Homo sapiens: one gene and its partners. The protein of the gene in region 2 purifies or fractionates together with the protein of the main gene of each other region. This does not show direct contact. Each region holds a gene or a part of one and is shown on either strand. Other genes may lie near its edges.

Region 1 (3,500 bases), on a different chromosome or scaffold from region 2:
CTCCCTATGCCTTATTTTAGCTAATACACACTCATCTTCACTATTAGGTCACCTGATTTTCACAGCAACTCTATGAGGTGGATGGAGTAGGTATTATGGCTCCCTATCTGAAAAATGAGGAACTGAGGGTCAGGTTGGTTGATAAAAGTAAAGACCCTGGAATTTCACTCAAACCTGACTCTTAGTCTTGTTTTCTTTCCGATCTAATTTTACTCTCAGGATGAACTCAAATTGGAGAGTTTATTGGTATTGATTGTTCCTCCTTGGTACCCTTTGATGTAGAGATGGATAATCTGTTGAAACTAGTGAGAACACTCATGAGTAATTTTACTCTAAACTATGTGCAAACTTTATTCTGGTAAAAATAAAAATTGACATATATATGCTGTGCATATGTACATATATTACACACATACATATCTGTGTATATATCATATATAAGTATATGTGTATATATGTGTGTGTGTGTGTATTCTAGCATGCATTAATGTCTATAAGCATTTATTTTTACCAGCCAGGAAGCTAAAGTCAGCTTTTCTGTCATTGATCACAACCTGAATTAAATGAATAAAAAAGTCCCAATGCAGAGCAATGCCTGGAGATACTTCAGCCTTGGTAAAAACCAGACACTGCTTCACATAACTTGAACCGACAACAAAAATATCCCTCCCTGCCCAGGGGATATTTCTGGGTCAGGACTCCCTCTCTCAGCCAAAGAGTCAGACATTGCTGAAAATTTTCTCACTGTACTACCCTGTTTCTCTGGCTGACCTTTAAGGTTAGGACCTCTGGATGTAAGCCCATGAAAGACAGTGATAAGGCAAAGTCAGCTGCCTTTAGGCTCACAAAAATGCAGTTTTTCACTTCAAATAGACCCCGAAATCCCCAATGACCACATACAAACCATTCCTTATCTATGAGGTTAATGCAGCAGACACGCCATCACCAGACCATGCACTCTGAATTGTTTTTTCCAGCAAAGGTTCCCCTACTATCCCTTCATTTGCCTCATCATAAGAAATATGCATATGAGAGTGGCTAGCAGGGGTCAGGGCTGAGGATCTTGAGCATGAAGAGTTGCCCTGTGCAAAGCCAGATATATCACACAGAGACCAATCTGGGACTACAGCACCAACTAACTCTCCTGTTTATAAAATGCCTAAGAATTTATTAGGCAAGCACAATCCACTCCCATACAACCCATCAGACTAACCACATCCCCTATTTCCAGGACTATCCATAAGCACCCAGAATTCACTGCCCATGTGAATCAACATTTCAAGCGTCCTATAATATCCACAGCTCAAAATTAATCAGCAGGGTGGGAGGTGTTCAGGACATCTCTGAACAAAGTTCTCCCTGCGAATGTATCTCTTCCTACCTACTTGGAAAATGCTTCTTCTAGCTTTACTCATACAAACTACACTCAGAATAAAAAATAAAATGTAAATGCGAATATGATTTAACAAAATTTTTCAGGTTATTTTTCCTCCCTTTTGTCCATCCGCAGTATGCTTATCCTGTAACATTTCATGGCCTATGACTAGGATGAATGAGGGAAGAGGGCCCTGCCATGGGAAATCAATCCTAATTGTTTAGAATCTAACATAAAACTATTTTTAAACTATTAATATTTTAAATTACTCACTGAAAGGGAAAATCATTTTCCCTGCCTACAAAGCTATGATATGGTTCTTACAATTCAATCTTCAAAAATATATTTTCCTGATCTTCACATTTCGCATCTCCATTTTTAAAATGTCTTCCTTTCTCCTTATCTAAAACTTTGGATCTCAATTATTTTGACCTTTCTCCTCAGATTCAGATTAAACAAACCTTTCGCTGCAAGCCTAACTATGTGCTGAGCAATGCATAGTTAACTCACTCTATTATCTAGAGATTTATCATTTTACAGATGAAGGAACAGAGGCTCCATTAAGTTCAGTGACTTTCCTGCTTTCACAGCCTCGAAAGTGGCCTCTCCAGAGTTTCCAAGTCCACATGCTGTCAATGGGGGGGCTCTAGGTAAAATATTTTTCCAGTATGGCTTGCATTTAGTTTTATCCTTCAGAGGTGTTATTCAAATTGTTATGTGGTTTGGGGAAGGGGCTTTGCTACTGGTAATCTCAGGCTGGAATCAAGGATTATAAGCAACTCACAGAAGGATAAATACAGCTATTGCACATTGTAAACAATCTGTTTGTTCACAAGGGATCTTCTCCCTGAATTCAAATAACCAGACATTAATTCTTCTTTGTAGATTTACTCTAAATGGAGGTCCACAATTAACAACATGTCAGGTCTTATTCCTTTATATCATTTCAATTGCCTAACCAGTAGATTGTTAGCTCAAAGGGTCAGAGCACATGATTAGTGAGGGAGGACAAAGGCTTCTCCCTCTATTCCCGTGCAGGTCAATAGGCATGCACACCTCCTACCCTCGGCCAGCTCAGAAGGTGCTGGTTCCACTAGATACTAAGAGGGCTGGTAGTCAGAACTTGTAGGGAAGAAAAGCAGGGCATTCTGCAGCTGACTCCGATACCAACCAAAAGATAATATATGCTAACATGACAACAACTAACAATGATTATGGTTAAGTATTATTATTGCAGGATTTCAAGGCACAACCATTCACAAAATATAAACATTTTGTGAAAACATATGCTAGCTCTATGAACAAAGGCAAGAAAACCTTCATTTATGTTCCCTTCTGGAAATCAAGCACGTCCTTTTTGCTTGTTTGTTTGCTTTCTTCTTGTGTTACTCTGCACATCCCATCTTTTTTTTAACAGAAGAGGCACAGCTATTATTTTCCATAGAAATGCCCTGGCCAGAAATCTTACCTCTCGTGACTTTCAAATGCTAAGATGCTACACAAAACATTACATTGATATTCTGAGCAAATGGTCAAAACTATACCTTTACTGTGGTGAAAATTTACTACCTTACTCACCTAGAATATCATACCGAAGATATAAAAAATACTACCAGGATAGTAAATGACTGCAGAAATAATAACAAGTTTCAGTTCCAATTTGCAACACGTAAGATGAGACCCCAAGCCCAAATGGGTAAAAAACAGAACATTCCAGACGCATCTGCAAATTAGTTACTGCCCTCAGCTGATCCACAGCTGGTTTACTGATGGAAAGAATAACAAAAGGATGTCTAAAGTGTTGAAAGGTCAGAGCAGTAAAGGATGAATAAGAAATACATTTGGCCTGTACAGTGCAATGATATTGCACGTGTGAACTCCATTTACCACCCCAAAGACTTAGCATAGGCTTAAGCTCCTTTGATCTACAGAGGAAATGCTCTCCACTGTAGAATAGCTGATCTTTTTACACTGGTTCAAGGGGTCCTCTGTAACCTCTATAAGCACTAAATTTCCTCATTGGCGCTGTAAAACCACAATAAATCATCCTTGGTGTTATTTGTATGTAAACTTTCTTAGCATTATTATTTTTAATGAGAAGCCATGAATCTTCACTATAAGGCCT
Region 2 (3,500 bases):
TTGGGATGCCAAGGCAGGCAGATCTTGAGGTCAGCAGTTCAAGACCAGCCTGGCCAACATGGCAAAACCTCATCTCTACAAAAAATATAAAAAATAGCCGGGTGTGGTGGTGCATGCCTGTAGTCCCAGCTACTCAGGAGGTTGAGATGGGAGGATTGCTTGACCCTGGAAGTTTGCTTAACCCTGGAAGGCTGTGGTGAGCCAAGATATTGCCACTGCACTCCAACCTGGGCAACAGAGTAAGACCCTGTCTCAAAAATAATAATAGTAATAATAATAATAAATGAAGTTTGTAGTACATGTTATTTCAAAATAGCCCTAAATGTTTTCACTGCCCTTAAAACACCCCTGAAGGTGGGTGAAAATAAAATCAAGGGCAGAGACCAAATTCTTTGATTGTTGATCCAGTGCTCTTTCCAACATGCCATAGCTTATCTTCAAATATGGCAAGCCCAGATGTTACTACAAATGATACCGTTTCCCAGTGTGATGAAGGGTCATTATCATAATGGACTGCCCGATTGCATTTTCTTTGGTTAAGGCAATGCATTTTGCAGGTAGCAGTGTTGTTTAGCGTACCTTTTCCTTTTAAGAAGAGGAGCCCTGAACAATGTGTGTCTTGTTTCTTTGTCACTTCTCAGGCTTCATTAGCTTTAACTACAAGGTCTATCAGCCTGTCATAGTAGCAAATGCCATTGCCTCGCACAAATCCTTCACTTTCTACTTGGCCTTCTAAATTCCTGATGGATCTGTGTTATACTGTTAAATGGGTCACACTGTCTTTTAACCTGGGTTCTCTTTTCTTTTTAGACTCTGAATTCAGTCACCCCTCGACTACAAGCTGAAGACTGCAGTATAGCGTGCCTGCCAAGGAACCATGACAAGAACCGTTTCATGGACATGCTGCCACCTGACAGATGTCTGCCTTTTTTAATTACAATTGATGGGGAGAGCAGTAACTACATCAATGCTGCTCTTATGGACGTAAGAGACTGCCCTCTTTGTTAGTGTAGAGTGTTGTGGAAAGCTACATAATGCAACTGAACACTGGCTAGTTTTCTTTTCGAGGAAATTAAAATAACCTAAAAAGGAAAAGTGGAAACTTTTATTGAAACACATTTTTTTGGAAAATGATTTTAGGTTTTCCCTATAGAGATTCTTAAGAACTGTCATTTTTATAGCTTTATTGTAGATTTGGAGCTTGATTGTCAATTATTATATTCATGTAGTAAATATTGCAAGTTATAAATTTCATCTTAATTATTTTCAGAAAAGAAAATCATGCCTTATCTATTTTGAATATAATTAGAAATGAATTTTTTAAATCACAGAATGCCAAATCCTACAAAAATCATGTTAATTTGGGAAATTTTTATTTCTGACATTTAATGTTTCAATAATTTACAATTAATTTGTTGGCCATTAATCAATAAGGACTATTATAAGTAACTAGAGAGGGGATGGATGGTATTATGTTAACACATCCATCATAATGAAAGAACAATCTTGCCCCATTCTAAAATCTTAAATTGCAGGGTGTTATATAGCCCATAGACAGAACAATATGGAAAGAAAGTTTTCTGTTTTAGTTTTTGGTTTTTTTTTTTTTAGACAGAGTCTCACTCTGTCGCCCAGGCTGGAGTGCAGTGGCATGATCTCAGCTCACTGCAACCTCCGCCTCCCAGGTTCAAGCAATTCTCCTGCCTCAGACTCTTGAGTAACTTGGAATACAGGAGCGTGCTCTACCACACCCCGCTTATTTTGTTTGTTTGTTGTTGTTTTTGTTTTTGAGACAGAGTTTCGCTCTTGTTGCCCAGGCTGGAGTGCAATGGCACAATCTCGGCTCACTGCAACCTCTGCTTCCCAGGTTCAAGCGATTCTCCTGCCTTTGCCTCCCAAGTAGCTGGGACTACAGGCATGCACCACCATGCACGGCTAATTTTTTGTATTTAGTAGAGATGGGGTTTCACCATGTTGGTCAGATTGGTATTGAACTCCTGACCTCAGGTGATCCACCTGCCTCGGCCCCCCAAAGTACTGGGATTACAGGCGTAAGCCACCGTGCCGGGCCTTTTTTGTATTTTTAGTAGAGATGAGATTTCACCACATTGGCCAGGCTGGTCTCAAACTCCTGACCTCATGATCCGCCCACCTTGGCCTCCCAAGGAAAGAAAGTTTTAAATTATGACTTTGGCCACTTTACTTTGATTATGTTGGAAAGAAGCAAGAAAGCTATCATGGTTTATAATCTTTTTAAACAGTTTACTGCCTTCATTTCTAGCTTTTGCCCTTTCTCCTATGAAACCATATCAAGGAGAAATTAGAAGCCACGGTTCATTTCTTTCTGACTATAACAGGCTTTCTAAGTTATTGTTCCTGTTAAGCCCACATTCTGTTTCTACGAGTAGTCTTCACCAGTTACTTTACTCTTTTTGGTGCTGCAAAGCGGAATAGTCTAAAGGCAGGCTCTCGTCCTTGCTGTGGTCACTCTTGCCTGTGAAAAGCTCTCATCCTTGCTGTGATCGGAGTCTTGCCTGGCCATTAATCACATCCACTGAAATCACATTAAATCCTAATTATACCTTTTCTTTTTATATTAGGTGTCTGGAAAGGCAAATATACTAAATAGAGAGATGGCATACAATACTTTTTCATTTCTGCATCTAAATATGGAATAAAAAAAGGATGTGTGAACAAGAAAAGGAGAAAATAATAATATTTAGAAAAGCATTGATGCCTTTGAATTTTTTGCCATTGGCATCTTTGTCAAATTTTTCTCAATGTCCAGATTGTCTCCTTTTCTTTTCTTTTTTCTTTTTCTTTTTGAGACAAGCTCTCACTCTGTAGCACAGGCTGGAGTGTCGTGCATGATCACAGATGACTGCAGCCTCAATCTCCTGGGCTCAAGTGGTCCTCCCACCTCAGCCTACCAAGTAGCTAGAACTAAGGTGTATGCCATCATGCCCAGCTAATTTTTTTTTTATTATTTTTTGTAAAGATGGGGTCTTGCTTTCTTGTCCAAGCTTGTCTTTTTTTCTGTATGAAAGTTGAAGCTTGTAATCCACCTGCTCTTACTGTCTGCTTAATCCCCTGTGATTCAAAAAAAAGACATTTCATAGTTAAAGCTGTTCTGGGGATTTAGTAGTGCAAATGAACCGTTGGAGAAGTAAAGCTGGTTTGATTTACAAGAACAGGGTTTATTGTTCACTTCTTTCTCCCTACCCTTTATCCCCATCATTAGTACCCTTTTGCCAGGTCTATGAGGGATTAGGAGCTAGGGCCAAGAATTCTGTAATTTCAAAGCCTTACATATGTTCCTGCATTTAGAGGGAAAAAGAATAGGAAGTCTTCAGTCTTCTCCTCTCTTATCAGCTCCTCCTCATGCATATCCCCTCCCCTGTGGCTCAAAAAATGAGTAGATAGCCGTCAGTCTGCTTTGACTTACCTTTGCATGGAGCAGACATTTGATTGGAAGAAGAGCTTCCTTTCTTCTAACTTTT
Region 3 (3,500 bases), on a different chromosome or scaffold from region 2:
CTCTGTGAGCTCATAGCCAGTCCCGCAGCTGCTGTCCCGCTGGCAGCGGAAAGAGCCCACTGTGTTGATGCAGGATTCTCCAAGCCGGCAGCTGTGGCTGCCCGTGATGCATTCATTGACATCTAGGAGAGACCGAGGCAGTGCGGGGGTGACCAGCAAGAACGACCCATCCTAATACATCCTAGAAAGGAATGTGCCAAAGCCACGGTGGAAGTGCTTCCCTGCACCCTCGCAAACTGAGCTCAGGTCCACCATGTGCACATCCGGGCTGTGGACTGCACGGAGTCGAAAGCAGTGATTTCTCTCCCCTGCTAACGTTCATATCTACTGCTTTTTCTGAGACTGTAGTTATGTGGTCCTCAAGAACCCCACGGAGGGGCAGCATCTTCTCCATCTCCCCCATCTCACAGACGCGGGGGCCAGGAGAGGCTGAAGGATGTGCCCAAGGCCACTCAGCAGATCCTGGATCCGGAACCTGGTTAGACCCCAACTCCATCCTCTTTCCCAACCCCAGTGCTTATATTGTCTTGGAGGGAAGTCTCGGCAGGGGCCTCTGCGCTGCAAACTCCAGCGAACACGAGAAAGCGCGTCCTGGGCTGCTCTCCACCCCTGAATGGGGTCTGGGTTGTAGAAGGCAGGCCCTGGTCAGTCCTCCAGCACAGAGCTCCCAAGCACAGTGACCGGCCAGTCCTGCTGGCACCTGGGATAGGGACATTACCTTCACAGGAGACACCATCAGACAGCAGCTGGTAGCCCACGAAGCAGGAGCAGACCACCTCGTCACCCGTGTCTCGGCACTGCTGCTTGCAGGGCCCGCCTCCTGGAAGCACAGCGTGCATGAGCCAGGGATGGACGCACCCAGGCACCGCCTGGTTTCTAGCTCCGTTCAGGCTGGGTCATAGAAAACGCCCTCTGGGCAGACGAACCCAGGAAGGCAGGCTGACCTGGCTGGAGCCCACCTGCTGCCCTACTGGGAGACCCCCAGGCTCTGGCTCTGGACACCCCCCAGGGGCTGCTGCTTCAGGTCCCAACCTCCCCGTCTGGAAAATCAGGTGGTGTGCAGGGTGCCCTTTGTAGGCTGGGGTGGACCTGGAAGGGGCGAAGCAGAGAAGAGCTCACTGCCGGTCACAGACATGGGGGTGTGGGCTCCACGTGGAAGGCCAGGCCCCAACTAGGCCTCATGTACCTGCTCCTCACTGAACTCTCGAGCTGTCCCACTGCTCCAAGCCCACTACCATGGCCTCAGTTCCTGCAGCTGCCCACCTGGCTGTGGCCACAGCCTCCTACCTGGTCTTTCTGCATAGCCCAGAAGCACCCCACAACCTGTTCTTCCTACAGGGTGGCCAGAGTGATGCTCAGAGTGCAAATCTCATCAGGATAAGCCTCAACCAGGGAAAGATTCTACGAGATACACTTCTAACTGCTGCCAGCCTGCCTGCTTCTAGGGCCCCTCTCTCTGGCCCTGTAACCCCACCTCCTTCCCCAGCCCACTGCCTCCCAGTACCCTGCTACAGTGGGTCCGTGCCCTTTACAAGGCTTCAGGTCTCCCTGAGGACCGTTTCAGGGTTATTTTCCCAGCTAATCCCACCTCCTCCTTGCAGACCAGCTCTCCCCTCCCCAGAAAGCTCCTCCCATAGCCCTGAGGCTTGCTGGGGCTCTAGGTCACTCCCTTCCTCCCTCCACCAGGCCCCTGGACAGCGCCCCTGGACCAACTGTCACTGTACACTGACTGCATCATTTAAGAATTAAACTGGCCCCTAATTAACACCCTAACCACAGGGGGAACCACTGAAAGAGCTTGTGAGGCAGATCTGCAGGTCTAGACATGCCAGAATGTTCCATGAAAGAAAAGCAGTTTTATCATATGAAAAACAAACCTGCGAGGCCCTTAGTTAAATGTGCAGACATCTCCCTGTGAGGCAAATGAATATCACCAATGGTGACAGAACCGTGGCTGGGGCTCCAGGGGCACAAAGGCAGGGAACGCTGAGCCCCCTCCTCTCCCCTGAGAGCCTGAGGGAGGCCTCTGTCACCTTCACAAGGCCTGGGGGCTCGGTAACGTGCAGGCTTTCCACACCAGCTCTGGCCCTGGGCCTGGGCCACCCTCCCCAGCAGGGCCTCACCAGGGCCCCTCCTTGGTAAGCCCACCCTTCCCCTCCCCAGCCAGCCCTAGATCTGGAAGGGGAAAGGGAAGGAGGAGCTGGGAGTCCACGACTCCTCAGGGTGGAAGTGGCTCATGGCTGGCTCCCAGCCAAAGGGTACTTTGCAGGGTAAACCAAAGCAAAACCTGGATTCCAACTTCCAGTGAGATCAGCACCGAGATTCCTTGGTTTTGCTTTTTGTTTGTTTGTTTTTTTGTTTTTGAGACGGGGTCCAGCTCTGTTGCCCAGGCTAGAGTGCAAAGGTGCAGTCATAGCTCACTGCAGCCACAACCTCCTGGGCTCAAGGAATCCTCCTGCCTTGGCTTCCCAAAGTACTAGGATTACAGGCCTGAGCCACCTTGCTGGCCCCTTGGGGTTTGTTTAAATACCAACTGATGGGAGACGCCCGAGTCTCACCTCGGCAGCGGTCATTCAGATATGGGTCCTCTTGTTCCTCCTCAACCTCAATGATCTTATCTAAGGGGGAAAAAGACCAAGTCAGACATTTATCCAAACACCCATCTTATCTTAAAAGAAACTCCCAACATTCTCTCTTCTTGTCACTATCAGGCAGTAATGCCCATTTGAACATCTTATATAAACAGCTAAGTATTAACTTTATCCTCTTTAAGCTAGAATTACACTTGAAAATGTATAATTGATATCTGATCAATTATAGGCCAGGCGTGGTGGCGGGCACCTGTAATCCCAGCACTTTGGGAGGCCGAGGCAGGCGGATCACCTGAGGTCAGGAGTTCAAGACCATCCTGGCCAACACGGTGAAATGCTGTCTCTACTAAAAATACAAAAATTAGCCAGGTGTAGCGGCATGCACCTGTAATCTCAGGTACTCAGGAAGTTGAGGCAGGATAATCGCTTGAACTCAGGAGTCGGAGGTTGCAGTGAGTCAAGATCACACCATTGCACTCCAGCCTGGGCAACAAGAGCGAGACTCCGTTTCAAAAAAAAAAGATCAGTTATAACAGAAAGACCACAGACACAAAGGCCTGTAATCATTGACTTCATGCTGGGTGATATTCCCATAGTCCAAATTACTTGACCATCTCAGCAAATGCAGTCACAGCCTTGCTAACAACCAACACACGCCCTCCAAGTCTAAAGCAATGCACGCAGTAAAAACTTGAGTCTCCTGATTGATTCTATCAAATGCTATTATGTGTTTGAAAAGGGTTATTCTCCATTTCTGTACTTATTTGTCGCAGGCCAGCACTGGTCTGGGGACCTTCTGCATGGCCCCCAGGAAACATACAGTGGGTCCATGGCACTGGTAGCAGTGGGAGGAAGGTGCGGCTGTGAAGACAGGAAGCCCTCCCAGAGGAGGGAGCATGCGAGGATAGT
Region 4 (3,495 bases), on a different chromosome or scaffold from region 2:
CCCACACCCGCTCCTACAGGGCCAGGCTCTCAGGGGATGGGCCGGCCAGGGTCCCAAGCAGGAAAAGGCAGACTCCGGAGGCCCACCCTGCCCCCTTGTCCCTGAGGGTGCAGGCTGCCTACATCAGGTCCCAAGACAGTTTCTCTGCCTCCACATCCTCCATCAGCCGCTCCAGCCGCCCCCTGAAGTTGCTCTCAAAGCGCACGTCATCCTCAAACACCAGGACCCGGGCCAGGCCCCTGGCAACCACCTGTGGCATACAATGGGGTGGGAGATGGCTCTTCGGAGTTAAACAACCCCCCTCCCTCCACGCTGAAGCTCACAGCCTCTGCCTGGCCTCAGTTGGCCTGGCCACATCATGCAGTTGCCCCAAAGCCTGCTGGGGGCCCCACTGCCTGGGACCGGAAATCCCAACCTCGCTCTGGCATTTGAGGATCTCCAGATAGAATCATGATGGTAACCGTGGCCCTTGCTACATTCCCTGAGTGCTACTGTGCCCCAGGGCTGTGCCACTGCGTATCTGCAGGGGCCCTCAGGAGGCAGGAGATGATGATCCTCAATCGCAGGAAGGAGGTGGACATGCAGGGATGGGAAACTGCCTGTCCAAGGACACACAGCCAGGAAGTGGCAGAGCTGGGATATGAACCCGCATCTGCTGAACACCAGGGCCCAGCTTGTCACTTTGGCCTCCTGCAATTTTCCTTTTTTTTTGAGACGAAGTTTCACTCTTGTTGCCCAGACTGGAGTGAAATGGCCCCCCAAGTCAGGGGGCTGCATGGAAGAGGAGCAGGAACGGTGGAGGCCAAAGCAGCCATGGCCAAGACCAGGAGCCATCTCCCCTCCCACTCCTCCAGCTGCCTGAGTGCAAGCATGACAGATGGTGGCTGGGCCCAGAAGCCCAACTCTCTGGGGGCGGGGAAGTGGCTTGCAGTTCCCATCAAAAGATGGTCTTGGCTCACTGCAACCTCTGCCTCCCGGGTTCAAGTGATTCTCCTGCCTCAGCCTCCCAAGTAGCTGGGATTACAGGTGCCCACCACCACACCGGGCTAATTTTTTTTTTTTTTTTTTTTTTTGAGACGGAGTTTTGCTCTGTCGCCCGGGCTGGAGTGCAGTGGCACAATCTCGGCTCACTGCATGCTCCGCCTCCTGGGTTCACGCCATTCTCCTGCCTCAGCCTCCCGAGTAGCTGGGACTACAGGCGCCGCCACCACGCCTGGCTAATTTTTTTGTATTTTTAGTAGAGACAGGGTTTCACCGTGTTAGCCAGGATGGTCTCGATCTCCTGACCTCGTGATCCACCCGCCTCGGCCTCCCAAAGTGCTGGGATTACAGGCGTGAGCCACGGCGCCCGGCCAACGCCGGGCTAATTTTTGTATTTTTAGTAGAGACGGGGTTTCACCACGTTGGCCAGGCTGGTCTTGAACTCCTGACCTCGTGATCTGTCTGCCTCAGCTGGGATTACAGGCGTGAGCCACCGCACCTGGCCTGGCCTCCTGCTATTTTCTAAAGGAAGCTGGGCTGGGTGGGGGGTGGGAAGACCCCAGCCCCGAATATCCAAAAGAAAAAGTACTTTTGATAACTTTTGGAAAAGTTACTTTAGAATAACTTTTGGAAAACTACTTTTGATAACTTCTGTGAAAAGGAAATCAGCTCAGAAAGTAGTGAAGCCAGGAGCGGTGGCTCATGCCTGTAATTCCAGCACTTTTGGAGGCTGAGGTGGGTGGAATCACTTGAGCTCAGGAGTTTGAGATCAGCCTGGCCAACATGGCGAAACCCTGTCTCTACAAAAAATACAAAATTTAGCTGGGTGTGGTGGTGCGCGCCTGTAGTTTCAGCTCCTCGGGGGTGCTGAGGTGGGATAATTGCTTGAGCCCGGGAGGTCCAGGCTGCAGTGAGCCAAGATCACGCCACTGCACTCCCGCCTGGGTGCCAGAGCAATACCCTGTCTCAAAAAAAAAAAAAAAAAAAAAAGTAGTGAACCATGTCATCCTCCAATTTGTTCAGGGACGGTAAAAAAGCCAACATAGGCTGGGCATGGTGACTCAAGCCTGTAATTCCAGCACTTTGGGAGGCCGAGGTGGGCAGATCACCTGAGGTTGGAAGTTCGAGACCAGCCTGACCAATATGGCGAAACCCCCTGTCTACTAAAAATAGAAAAATTAGCCAGGTGTGGTGGCACATGCCTGTAATCCCAGATACTTGGGAGGCTGAGACAGGAGAACCGCTTCAACCCAGGAGGCAGAGGTTGCAATGAGCCAAGATTGTGCCACTGCACTCCAGTCTGGGTGACAGAGCAATACTCCATCTCAGAAAACAAAACAAAACAAAAACCCATAATGCTCACATACACGTGCACATATATTTGGCTATAGCAGAGAACACAAACAAGGAATCCATGTCCCATCTCCTGGAAGGGCTGCCCTTGGAGGGCCCAGTTCCCATTCTCTCCTGCCGTGTCCAGCAACCTCTTTCCTGCGCTCACACTCCCAGCCCCTGGGCCGAGGCTTCTTGGCCAAGTACTGAGCACATGCTAAGCCCCAGGCTTCCTTCTTTCTGCTCCTAAACACCTTCCTGCCTCAGGGCCTTGGCACCCACTGTTCTCTTCTGCCTAGAAGCCTCTTCTCCCGGCCCCTCAATGGTGAGGTCCATTCTGACCCCCTCCCACACGAGGCACCTCTCAAAGTGGCCCATACCTCTCCCCTCCACTGCAAGCTTGGTTTTGATTTCCATAATCCCGCTCTGGTCCCTGAGCCCCAGGGGGATCCCTTTATTGCAGGAAGGAGCAGACATGCATTGTTCCTGTCCTCCTCTGTGTTCTCAGAGCAGAATATCTCCTAGCACATAGTAGATGCTCAAGAGAGACTGCAGAATGAAAACAAGCACCGCTTAGTGGTGCCCACTGGGGTGTTGAACACAGAGGAGATTGAAAGCTGCTGGCCAGGTTTTGATGAATGTCTTCATTCACTCACTCGTTCACAGAGCAGTGAATAGAACAAACTGGCCCCGTTCTCCCCGAAGGCTGTGGATGGAGGAAGCAGGCACCCTCACCTCTTCCCAGATGGAGTAATGGCTGAGGAAGCAGCCCACCTCGCCCTTGGTCAGAGTGCGGCCCGAGTAAGGGTCCTGGTAGCCCGGGAGCAGGTCTACGCCGAGGTTCCTGATGGCACTGCTGTTGAGCATCCTGAGGGACACAGGTGTGGCGGGGTGAGGGGTGCCTGCCAGAGACCCCTCCAGAGGGGCCAGGCCTGTGCATGTTGGGGACAGTCACACTGGAGTCGGGTTTGAAGAAGGTTTCTGCCTTGTAACTCCTTTGTGTGACCTGAAGCTGTCAAGGGACTGGACCTGGGGAACTGGAGCCCCTGTTGCCCAGGCTGGAGTGCAGTGGCACCATCTCAGCTCACTGAAACCTCTACCTCCCAGGTTCAAGTGATTTTCCTGCCTCAGCCTCACAAGTAGCTGAGATTACAGGTGCCCAGCTAATGTTTTTTTTTTTTT
Region 5 (3,500 bases), on a different chromosome or scaffold from region 2:
GATTAGAATATTAACCCTTTCCCCCAAAGATTATCTTTTGCGGCTTTATTTCATGCCTATCCTCCCTAATACATAGAATGGTGCTGCATTCGTTCTTATAGAAAATCTTTCTAAACTAAAAATGCAAATCTCTGTTGTAGCTTGTCGTTATTGCCACTACTACTCCCTCATTCAAGCCATCAACATCTTTTCCAGGATGAATTTGATAATCCCTGAACTGGATTCATCATTTCCCTTCTTGTCCTTCTTTTCAGACCAAGCATGATCTCTTTAAAAAGTAAGTTGCATCATTTTCACCTCTGATTAGACAGCCAGTAGCTGCTCAAAATCAGAACCAAACCCAAATGCCTCAATTTGATCTGCATGACCCTACCTGACCTAATCTGACTTCACTGTAAATATGGCTTTCTCTACTTCTGTTCTCTCCCAAACACACACAGTTTATTTCAGACAAAGTGACCTGCTTTCTTTAAAATACCAAAATCACAACTTCCTCTCAAGGGTTGCATAGAAAATTCCTCCCTCTAGATGACTCAGAGCTTGTCCCCTCTCGTCACTTAGTTTTACCAAATATGTCACTTACTCAACAAGGCCTTCTGCGATTATAACTACGACTCCCAATTGCATTGTCCTCAGTCACATTACATTATTTTTCTTTCTTTTTAGCAAGGATGTTATTTATTTATTTGTTTGCTGTTTCTGTCTCCTCTTGCACTAAAGCCCTATCAGCCCAGTTACATTGTCTACCTTGTTCACTTGCTTCATTCCAACCACGTAAAATAGTGATTACCACTTATTTGCTCATCTTTGTCAAATGAGTGAATAAACACATGAGTGATCACCAACTATATGAGTTGCTTCAAGGATCATGTGATTCAGCAAGAAAAAAAAAATTTGAATGAAAAGCGAAGGTATGCTGAAAATGTAAAGAGCTTCTTGCTATTAGTAACTCATATTAAGCAATTAATATAATTAATAAAATAATAGGTATTTATGTAATGCAATACATGATACGATGTGTTTTCACAGACATTACACTCTGTGCACTCACAGAACGTTAGGGTCATAGCTATGTTTATCTTCTCAGAATGGGTCGGAGCAATTTTCTGTAAAACTCTGGTGGTGTTTTCATAGACACCCAGATGAAAATACACACAAGGTAAAACCCTCATGCCCTTCATTACTTTATGTTCTCCTAGCAATGAGAATAGCAAAGGAAGTCAAAATGTGCTAAGATGTTGGTTCTTTCACTGTCAAGATTAATTTCTAAATATTTGACAAGATCACTAGCAAGTGAAAATAGGAAGAAAACGTGCTAGGAGAAGGAACTGTAGAATTGAGTGTAATACAACAACGGACAAAGAAGAAGGTTTAAGTTCTGAATATCTGATATATTTAGTATATCTAAATTCAACATTTAGATTTAGATATTCTAAATGTTGATCATGTTGGATAGTCATCAAATTTTCTTGCAAATAAGATTAGTGTGCTGTTGTATTACAGGACATCAATATAGTGCTCCTGAACTGCTAGTCTTTGTGTTAGAAATGACATCAATACAAGGGCGCTCAGCAAGAGTGCCTGAATTCTGAGTTAGTAATTCCATCTACAAATCTGATGTAGTTATTATGCTTAATGAAAATCTCAAAAATATGGATGCCCAGTGGGCACAATCTGTAGTGCTTTCACCTGATGAGGCAAGAATCTCACTCACGAGGTGGTGTCATTATCACTGTACTTCCAGATCTTAGTCATGAAAAAAATGCCTTAAAAGTTAATAGAGTTGGATAAAGTGGAATATTTCAATAAAGCACACTTGCTATTCTAACATTTTTGTCCCAATAAAAATATACCATTAAAAGCTTTGGAAATGCACAAAATGTCTTAGATAATCTAAAAACTGAATCATTTTTAAATCTCTATAATATCTATTTTAGCAAAAGTTTAAGGTTCTAATTAGCTCAGCTACTTGATCTGAGCAGTAGTGGACAGAAGCTTCAATAAATTCTGACTATCAAAGTTCTCTTTCTTGGCATTGTTTTTCTTCCTTTCCTTACACATCCTAGTTTCAAAAGAAAACAGATGATTCTAAACACATTTCGGTTATCAGCATTACACCTACAGCTTTTCTTTCTCACAAATATCTTAAGATATGCTAGGAACACACAAAGCAACCATAACTAAGTTTCATTTCTCCCCAAAACTCATTGTTAGTTATCTTTTCTCATTTTAAGAAGAAAGGGCTAAGATGACAAATCGTCATTAAAGAAAAACTCAGCGGTAGAAAAATTCTTAAGGAATTATATATTCGTATTTCTAAAGTTAAGCAGTCTTGGAAATCTTGAAGGATGTCAATGCAATGTGGAAAAGTTAGGAAGGGATGTCCTATTGATTGCAAGAATAAAACAAGAGACGATAGGTGGTACCTTGATCTTACCTAAAGAAGAAACATATTCTTTTGACTAAAATGAGGTCATGTTTCAACAATACCTGTCTTTGGTCTGAAGGCTAAGCCAGTCAGGACAATGAGGTGTATGCAACTCAGGAAGAGATGTCTGACTGTTAATAAGAATGTATTGTGAGATGAAATGTAATGTCGGTATCTTAGCAAGGCAACATGATCTATCTTCTTCAAGAAGTTTTTTTTTTTTTTTGGTTATTTTTCTCTTAACAAAGTTGGAAGAAATTGTATATGAAAAGGTACTTTCTCAACTTCTGTAAAGGATATAGTTATAATATTATTCATGTTTAAATGGAAACTTTTAAATACACAAGCTTATATCTGAGAAACTTTTATATACGAGCTTATATTTGAGAAAAATAAGATTAAACAAATGGATCTGTGGTACAAATGTATTAATCAAAATTAATTTTCTTTCTTTTCTAAAGGTAAAGACACCTTTGAAAAGCGTTACGTATTTACAACTATTCTGCAATATTTAAGAAGAAATCCCAAATGTAGACAATACATCATTATTAAACAAATATGAGTAGAGTTATTGAACAACAGAAAAACATGTTTTTTTTAATTTTAATTTTAGATTTGGGGGTACATGTGAAGGTTTGTTACATAGGTAAACATGTGTAACAAGGGTTTGTTGATCATATTATCTTACCACCCAGGTGTTAAGCCCAGTGCCCAATAGTTATCCTTTCTGCTCCTCTTCTTCCTCCCACCCTCCCCCTTGAGTAGACCCCAATCATGTTGAGACATGATTATTTCCAAAATGAACATTACTCTTTTCCACTAAGGATACTTACAAATTTGAAGTAATAGGGAATAAGATCAACAAATGGGTATACTCATTTATTTATTCATGCCATTGCATTTTTAAAAATCATAATTGGGTACCTAATTGTAGACTAAAACTAAGTTAATGTGACTGCATATGAAAATTATTATAGTCATATTTAAAAGAGCATTTAATCCTGTTGTCCAATTTATGAATGATTTCCACTATATATATTCTTTATTGAGAGAAAATCTTTGAAATCACATT
Region 6 (3,500 bases), on a different chromosome or scaffold from region 2:
ATTGCCCTGCACAGGACCACAACCTGCCACTGGTCACGAACCATCCTGTGAAACAACCCTTGTCTTTTAAACATCCTTTCAATAAATATTTGAGAACCTGCGATTATGTGCTAGGCATCGTTCCAGGGGCTTGGGTCACGGCAACGAATAACACAAAGGTCCCTGCCCTCACAGTCCGACATTCTCATGGGGAGAAATAGACAATAAACAATCAACATGATACCCAGGGAAGTTCCAGGGTATCTACAGTGGCTGACAGGTCTAAGCAGAGCGGGTAAGGAGGGCTGGCAGCACAGGGGGACAAGGGGGAACCTGCATGATGCACAAACGGAATCAGGGGAGGGTCTCCGTGAGCAAGTGAGAGCTGAACAGAGACCTACGGGAGATGAGAGGGCTTGTGTCAGGAGAGCTAAGGCGATTGGGCCCATGGGGCTGAGGAATGGCCAGGAGGCCATTGTGCAAGGGAAAAGGGAATGCGGACGTCGCCAGAAAAGTGGCAGGGGTGGATGGCACAGGCCCTGGGCCAGGTTAGGACCTGGCTGTGACTCCTAGGGGACGGGTCTGGCCATGTCAGGGCTTTGAGGGGAGGAGGTGCTAAGTGCAATCTTGATGGGCTCCCATGGCTGCTTATTGAGAAACCCCACTGGGGAGCAAGGATGAGCACAGGGAGGCCAGTGAGGAGGCGGATGCAGGAATCTGGGGGAGAGGTGATGGTGCCTTGGACCAGAGGTGATGGCGCCTCGGGCGTGGTGAGAAGTAGTTGGAATCTGGGTATATTTAGATGATGAAGCTAGAAAACTTTCTGACGGGTTCTCTGAGGGAAGTGGAGAGAACAGAGTCAAGGCTGAGTGCAAGATGTTGGCCCGGGCAACTGGAAGATGGGGGGGCTATGATGGAGTGGGAAGCTGGTGGGAGCCACAGGTGTGGCCGAGGGTGATGAGGAGCCAGCCGGGGCGAGCGTGAGCTGCCTTTGACCCCGAGTTGAGATACGGACTCTGCTGTTGGACACTCGGGGGTGGGGTTCAGGGGAAAGGTCTGGGCCCAGGGATACCAATTTGGGAGTGGTCAGGACAGAGATGCCATTCAGGCGCAAGGCTGGAGGAGCCCACCCCAGGGATGAGGGATGAGGACACACAGAAAGGATGCCTGGAGCTCCACCAGCAGGAGGCAGGAGGCCAGGGAGATGAGGAGGCATCAGCAGGCAAGAAGACAGAGCAGCCAGGAAGGTGGGAGGAAAACCCAGAGAATGGAGATTTAAAGCGCCTCAAGGGTCCTTCTAGAAGCTTCCAGAGAAGGTGTAAGGAACTTCACCCAAAATGCCAGGAAGTGAACAAGGTCAGGCCCCTCCCGTTCCTTCCCCCTCCCCAGCACAGGCAATCAGTGAACAGGAAGAAACAGTGGAGTGGAGGGAAAGAAAACAAGAAAATTAAGACGGCCAGGCCTTGGGCCATGAGGCTTCCTGGAACCCGGGACCTGGGGAGCTTCTGAGCAGGCGGAGTGTCTCCATATCTCACGCAGGCTTTGGGAGGAAAATCGCCCCCAACACCCACAGGGAGCCAGCCCCTGGGCCCTTTAAGGCTTCAAAGTCAAGAACGCAGCTTTTTGTGTTGTTTTTGTTTCTCTTTGCAAGACAGCTCCAGCCTGGCCACTTGTGGGCCAGCAGAGCTCAAGGTCATGTCCAAACAGGGGGAGGGAGACGAGGTAAATAAAAGGGATTCTCTTTTTGTTTTGCGTTTTTGATTTTTGACTGAGCCCTAGCGTTGAATTCTCCGCACAATTAATGTGTCTGTGGTGTCGGAGCTGCCAGCGCCTCCTGGAGCAGAAGGCCTGGACCGAACTCTCCTCCACAGAATCCTCCAGGCCCAAGATTTAAACCACAAACTCTCTGGGTTCAGCCTTGGGGGGTGTGGCTTATGGCCCCAGGGGCCTCTCTTTTGCTGACCACAGACATGGAATCACCCTCTGGACACTAAGGAACCTCCATGCAGGACCCACGAATGACAGTGCCAACAAGCCTGCAGCAAATCGCCACTGGGGCCAAGACTCATCCAGGAAAAACACCTTCATGGAGCAAGCCCTCCATGGGGACTCACTTCCATCCCATTTGCTAGAAACCAAAGGCCAGGGTAAGGCGATTCCAGGTGGCTGAGCTTCGCCACGTTCTAGTTAATCAGGGTGCATCTCCCGGCGGAGGCACAGCAAGTACCGGCCATTCCGGGAAGGGACAGGGAATGTTTCCTGGAAACCCCAGGTGCTGGGCCTGGCCCCAGAAAGGCCAACCACAGCGGGACACATCAACATGTATGTGCAGACACATCAACACACAAGGACATGCATAAACACGTGTGTTCATGTGTGTCCATTTGCATGTACAGACACACCATGTGTGCCTGTGTCAACATATGTAGGCACACATCAACACAGGTGTCTGCATACACATCATCACGTCGTCACACATCAAGGCAGGTGTGTGCATGCCTACACAGGTGTGTGTGTCACTGTTTTCACCATCAGCACTTGTGTACACACACCAACACACGTGTGTGCAAACACACACACACTCACGAAGACAGGGAGAGGCAAATCTACCAGGAGCAAATAAACTAGACTCACACAAACTAAAAATAGCCCATGTTTTTCAGCCGTCGCCAGGGAGTAAGTTGAAGCTGTCTCTCACATGCTAGAAGGAGTAGGAAGTTCAATGGCAGGAAAGAGGAAGAAAAACAAAACAGAATTGGCACACACCTGTGATCCAAGCTGTCCTCGAGGAGCCCCCTCCCCACCTGTGCCCAGTGATCAGTTCTAGGGCTTTGCCCCACATGTCCAAACAAGGGGGTCCTACAGGAAACGCCCGGTAGGTGGAGACACTGGGCCTCCCCCCCAGGTTCCGCAGGGGGGCTGATAAAGGCGCAGAGCGGGCGGCCCCTGCAGGATGGGTGGGAGTCCAGCCCCCGGGGTCACTGGGAGCCCTGGGCTAGGAACAGGTGGCCTCCCCGGGAGCCTCACTTGGTGCCTTTGATTGGAGAACATGTCCCTGGTCTCAGACTACCCCCGGAAGGGAGAGGCCAGGGTGCACTCTGCACCAGCAAAGTTTGGCGGGGTGATGATTAGGACAAAGCCTCGAAGGGACCCTGCTGTTCCCTGGTGATGCACAGAAAAGGAAGGGGCAGCCCAGGAAGAGAATATAAGAAGGGCACCCCCCGCCGCCCGCCTTAAGCATGCAGTCGACCTGCTCAGACACACGGAGAACCGGGAGGACGCAGTGCGCAGAGGCCACCGGGACCAGCTGTGGAGTCGGCCCCCAGACTTGAAATCCTGATTCAACCGCTTGGAGCTATGTGACATGGGGCAAGTTACTTTCCGCCTCTGTGCATCCATTTCCCTCAATAAAATAAGACACAATAGTACCTATTTTAGATACTAAAATGAATAATGCACATAAACACTTGGAACAGTATCCGGCCACAACGAGTGCCCATTGACTGTTATCTCCCATCAAC
Region 7 (3,500 bases), on a different chromosome or scaffold from region 2:
CAGAATCCGAGCCCCAGTCAAGGCGGCCCTGGTATCTGTGCGCCAGCCACTGTGCTCACCTCGCTGCAAAGAGGAAGGACTATTTCAAGTTCCCCAAATCCCTAGAATAGGGCCATGGAGTCCTGGAGGCACCTGCAAGCTGTGCTTCATTCACCCTTCTTTAGGAGGCGAGACAAATACTGATGGTAGGGTTGATTCGGCCACTTAGAGACCTTGCTACGGAGGAAGCAGCGGGAGGGCTGCGGAGGCGGGGAAGTGAAAGGGTTAAAAGCCCTGGCCATTTCCCTGCATTTGCCTCTGGAGCCTTCTGTTTTGAATCCTGACCCCACAGCTGGGCCCTTTGTCACACCGTCACACCCCCCACTCCACGCACCGTGACAGTGAGGGCGTTGGGCTCCGTGAAGAACAGGTCCCCACCCTGGAAGTCATCGTTGAGGTAGAGGAGTCCGCTGGGGAGGGAAAAAAGCAAGAGGCAGTGAGACCCCAACCCAGGCCCAGGCCGGCAGTGGGATGACCTTTGTCTGCCCACCTGCCTGACCACTAGAGGGGCTGCCCACCTGTAGTCCCGATAGGTGTAGGCTGGGGGCTCCCGCCAGCACTCTCCCGTGTCAGGGTCCAGGACGCAGTTGTCTGCGTGCACTGGGTGACTCAGGTCCATGCGCTGCTCTTGCTCTCCTAGGACACAAAGGGGTCTGGGGGTACCTCTGTGCCCCTGTGCCCATCTGCCACCCTGTGGGCTCAGGCCGTGCACGTCCACCCCGGGGCTCTTGGGGGCAGTGTCCTGGGGGCAGGGCCTGAGGTTGGAGAAGAGCAGTGGGGGGTCCCTGTCGTACCTTCTATGGCGCTGCGGCACACCAGGTGGGTGAAGGACAGATGCAGGGGCCGTTCCGGGGAGAAGTAGGCCTGGGTCAAGGTCCGCACCCGCTCGCTCACCTCCAGAAGCAGCTTAGCACCCTGACTGCCCACTGTCCCAGCCCGGGCCAGCTGCAGGCAGTGAAAGGCAGGGCAGAAAAGGAGGAAGGCAAGGGGAGGGTGGTCTCGGCCCTAGCCCCTGCCCAACTCTGCCGCTCTCCACCCATGGGTTTGGAGTCTGTCAGCATCCAGCTCTGTCCATCAGCCCAAACTGCTCCTTCTCTCTCCATGACAACAACCCCGGCCCCAGCTCTCAGAACATCCCTTTTCTCCACGCTGGGTCCTATCAGGTAGTCTCGGTCCCAAGAAAGCTCCTTCACAAAAGCCCAGGCCCTGGGGCCCGGCTTCCTGCACAGCCTCTCCTCCAGGTCTGGGCATCAGACGGGCCCGGGTGCCTCCTGTGCTCACCTGCGCAGCCTTAAGCACCGTGAGCCCCTCGAAGCGTTCATGGGGGGTGTGAGGGGAGCGGCGACCACGATAGCCAGACCTGGCTCCAGCCCCAGCTGCATCCTAAATAGGAAGGAGTTTACCGTGGAGTCACTCCCCCAGCCCCTCACTGTCTGCAGGGCTGCAAGACCCTCCCTCCGGCCCTCCCGCTCTCCAGAAGAAGCTAGATGCTCCCACAGTTCTGTTGTGGCTCGTCTTCCTGAGCTGCTGCTCTTTCCCAGAGAGTGCCCACCGCCACGGCTGTCCGATTGTCCCTCTCTGGTACGGGCTGGAATCCCGCTTACTAAGGGGACTGTGGAGAGAACTCGGGAGAGCTTCCTACAGCAGTAAGGGGGCCTCTGAGAGGGTAGGGACAGCTGGAAAAGTGGGGCAGAGCTGGGAACTAGGCAGGAAGGGCTTGATCATTAATCCCCGATGAGCCAAGAATAGAGGAGTCCCTCTGGAAACAGGACCCTAAGAGGAAGTTCCACAGTTAGGCCAGACTGGCGGTAGGGAGACAGCATCAGCGGGCTATCCCTCTCTGACCTCTTCCCACCTGACATGCTCTCGGAGAAACTGTGGACTCCGTGGCTCCCCCACTCCTTGATACTGAGTCACAACTACCCAGCCACCTCCGCGACCACTCTCACTACCTGGGGGTCTCCTAATATCTGGATGTCTACACTGGAATTATTCGCTTTTCTGACACCCGTTTTTTGTCTACTTTTTGAATTTGTTTAAGCACCACTATCTAGTTACGCCTGCATACAAATCTCACTTCTGAGAGACACCTAGTCACCCAAGCCGTCTAACCTGGGGTTTTTTTTTTTTTTCATTTTTTGTTTTTGAGACGGGGTCTTGCTCTATCGCCCAGGCTGGAGTGCAGTGGCGCCATCATAGCTCACTGCAATCTCCACCTCCCAGGCTCCAGAGGTCCTCCCACCTCAGCCTCCCAAGTAGGTGGGAACATATAGGCGCATAGGCCCAGCTAATTTTTTGTATTTTTGTAGAGACGGGGTTTTACCACGTTGCTCAGGCTGGCCTGGAACTCCTGGGCTCAAGCCATTCGCCTGCCTCAGCCTCCCAAAGTGCTGGGATTACAGGTGTGAGCCACCTCGCCAGCCAACGGTGGCATTCGTCAATTACTCCCCTTTTCCGGGTCTTTCTCCCACTGCATTCTACAGACTGCCACTAGAGGGCTCTACCACTCCTACAGGTGACTCCAGACCCTGCACCTGATTCCAGGTACTACAGGAATGCAAAAGTCAACCGTCCTAAAATCCTGCAACAGCTGTCTACCATACACAGATAAAGCCCAAACTCCTTGGGAGGCCACAGAAGACACTCACTGTCCCTCGGCCTTCATGTGTGGGCTCTCTCCCTCTTTCCCTATACTGTCTCTTGGTAACATACACCCTGATGATTCTATGTTCTTTTTTAATTAATTAATTAATTAATTAATTATTTAAAAAAATTTATTTTTCGAGGCGGAGTTTTGATCTTGTTGCCCAGGCTGGACTGCAATGGTGCGATCTCGGCTCACTGCGACCTCCGCCTCCTGGGTCCAAGCGATTCTCCTGCCTCAGCCTCCCCAGTAGTTGGGATTACTGGCACCTGCCACAATGCCCACTAATTTTTTTGTATTTTTAGTAAAGACCGGGTTTCACCATGTTGGCCAGGCTGGTCTTGAACTCCTGACCTCAAGTGATCCACCTGCCTTGACCTCCTAAAGTGCTGGGATTACAGGCATGAGCCACCACACCCAGCCAGTGATGATTCTGTGTTCTAAGAGCTTTATCATGTGCTAACTCATTTAATCCTCACAACGACACTATGACAAAAACACTATTATTATCCTCATTTTATAGATGAGCAAATTAGGCTCAGAGATGTTAAAATAAATTGCCCAAGATCACACAGGTAATGACTATGGAGCTGGCCCTGCTCTCACCCCTGTGCTTGACTGCAGTTCCCAGAATGCACCATGCTCTTCTCCCTCTTAGACTGATTCCACCCCCAATCGCCTGACTAACTCATCCTTAAGACTGAGCTCAAATACCACCTCTCCAGCAAGCCTTCTATAACTGCATTTCAGTGCTTCTATTTGACATACTTTTTTTTTTTTTTTTTGAGATGGAGTTTCGCTCTTGTTGCCCACGCTG

The links.
Region 1: the proteins of PTPRK (region 2) and PCSK5 purify together in Homo sapiens (affinity purification with mass spectrometry; 3 studies listed by BioGRID and IntAct, with this or other methods). This does not show direct contact.
Region 3: the proteins of PTPRK (region 2) and FBLN1 purify together in Homo sapiens (affinity purification with mass spectrometry; 3 studies listed by BioGRID and IntAct, with this or other methods). This does not show direct contact.
Region 4: the proteins of PTPRK (region 2) and CERCAM purify together in Homo sapiens (affinity purification with mass spectrometry; 3 studies listed by BioGRID and IntAct, with this or other methods). This does not show direct contact.
Region 5: the proteins of PTPRK (region 2) and LRP1B purify together in Homo sapiens (affinity purification with mass spectrometry; 3 studies listed by BioGRID and IntAct, with this or other methods). This does not show direct contact.
Region 6: the proteins of PTPRK (region 2) and SCARB1 purify together in Homo sapiens (affinity purification with mass spectrometry; 3 studies listed by BioGRID and IntAct, with this or other methods). This does not show direct contact.
Region 7: the proteins of PTPRK (region 2) and P3H3 purify together in Homo sapiens (affinity purification with mass spectrometry; 3 studies listed by BioGRID and IntAct, with this or other methods). This does not show direct contact.

Annotation. Positions count from the first base shown.
Region 1 is NC_000009.12:75,893,673-75,897,172, reverse strand, and holds part of PCSK5 (proprotein convertase subtilisin/kexin type 5 isoform 3 precursor), read right to left. Parts: intron 1-3,500. UniProt on the Homo sapiens protein: Serine endoprotease that processes various proproteins by cleavage at paired basic amino acids, recognizing the RXXX[KR]R consensus motif. Likely functions in the constitutive and regulated secretory pathways.
Region 2 is NC_000006.12:127,978,600-127,982,099, reverse strand, and holds part of PTPRK (receptor-type tyrosine-protein phosphatase kappa isoform b precursor), read left to right. Parts: intron 1-810; coding exon 811-984; intron 985-3,500. UniProt on the Homo sapiens protein: Regulation of processes involving cell contact and adhesion such as growth control, tumor invasion, and metastasis. Negative regulator of EGFR signaling pathway. Forms complexes with beta-catenin and gamma-catenin/plakoglobin.
Region 3 is NC_000022.11:45,530,383-45,533,882, reverse strand, and holds part of FBLN1 (fibulin-1 isoform D precursor), read right to left. Parts: intron 2,619-3,500; coding exon 2,559-2,618; intron 821-2,558; coding exon 719-820; intron 123-718; coding exon 1-122. UniProt on the Homo sapiens protein: Incorporated into fibronectin-containing matrix fibers. May play a role in cell adhesion and migration along protein fibers within the extracellular matrix (ECM).
Region 4 is NC_000009.12:128,430,857-128,434,351, reverse strand, and holds part of CERCAM (inactive glycosyltransferase 25 family member 3 isoform a precursor), read right to left. Parts: intron 3,182-3,495; coding exon 3,049-3,181; intron 251-3,048; coding exon 123-250; intron 1-122. UniProt on the Homo sapiens protein: Probable cell adhesion protein involved in leukocyte transmigration across the blood-brain barrier. Does not express any beta-galactosyltransferase activity in vitro.
Region 5 is NC_000002.12:142,121,017-142,124,516, forward strand, and holds part of LRP1B (low-density lipoprotein receptor-related protein 1B precursor), read right to left. Parts: intron 1-3,500. UniProt on the Homo sapiens protein: Potential cell surface proteins that bind and internalize ligands in the process of receptor-mediated endocytosis.
Region 6 is NC_000012.12:124,853,865-124,857,364, forward strand, and holds part of SCARB1 (scavenger receptor class B member 1), read right to left. Parts: intron 1-3,500. UniProt on the Homo sapiens protein: Receptor for different ligands such as phospholipids, cholesterol ester, lipoproteins, phosphatidylserine and apoptotic cells. Receptor for HDL, mediating selective uptake of cholesteryl ether and HDL-dependent cholesterol efflux.
Region 7 is NC_000012.12:6,834,907-6,838,406, reverse strand, and holds part of P3H3 (prolyl 3-hydroxylase 3 precursor), read right to left. Parts: intron 1,423-3,500; coding exon 1,321-1,422; intron 985-1,320; coding exon 834-984; intron 676-833; coding exon 558-675; intron 450-557; coding exon 374-449; intron 1-373. UniProt on the Homo sapiens protein: Part of a complex composed of PLOD1, P3H3 and P3H4 that catalyzes hydroxylation of lysine residues in collagen alpha chains and is required for normal assembly and cross-linkling of collagen fibrils.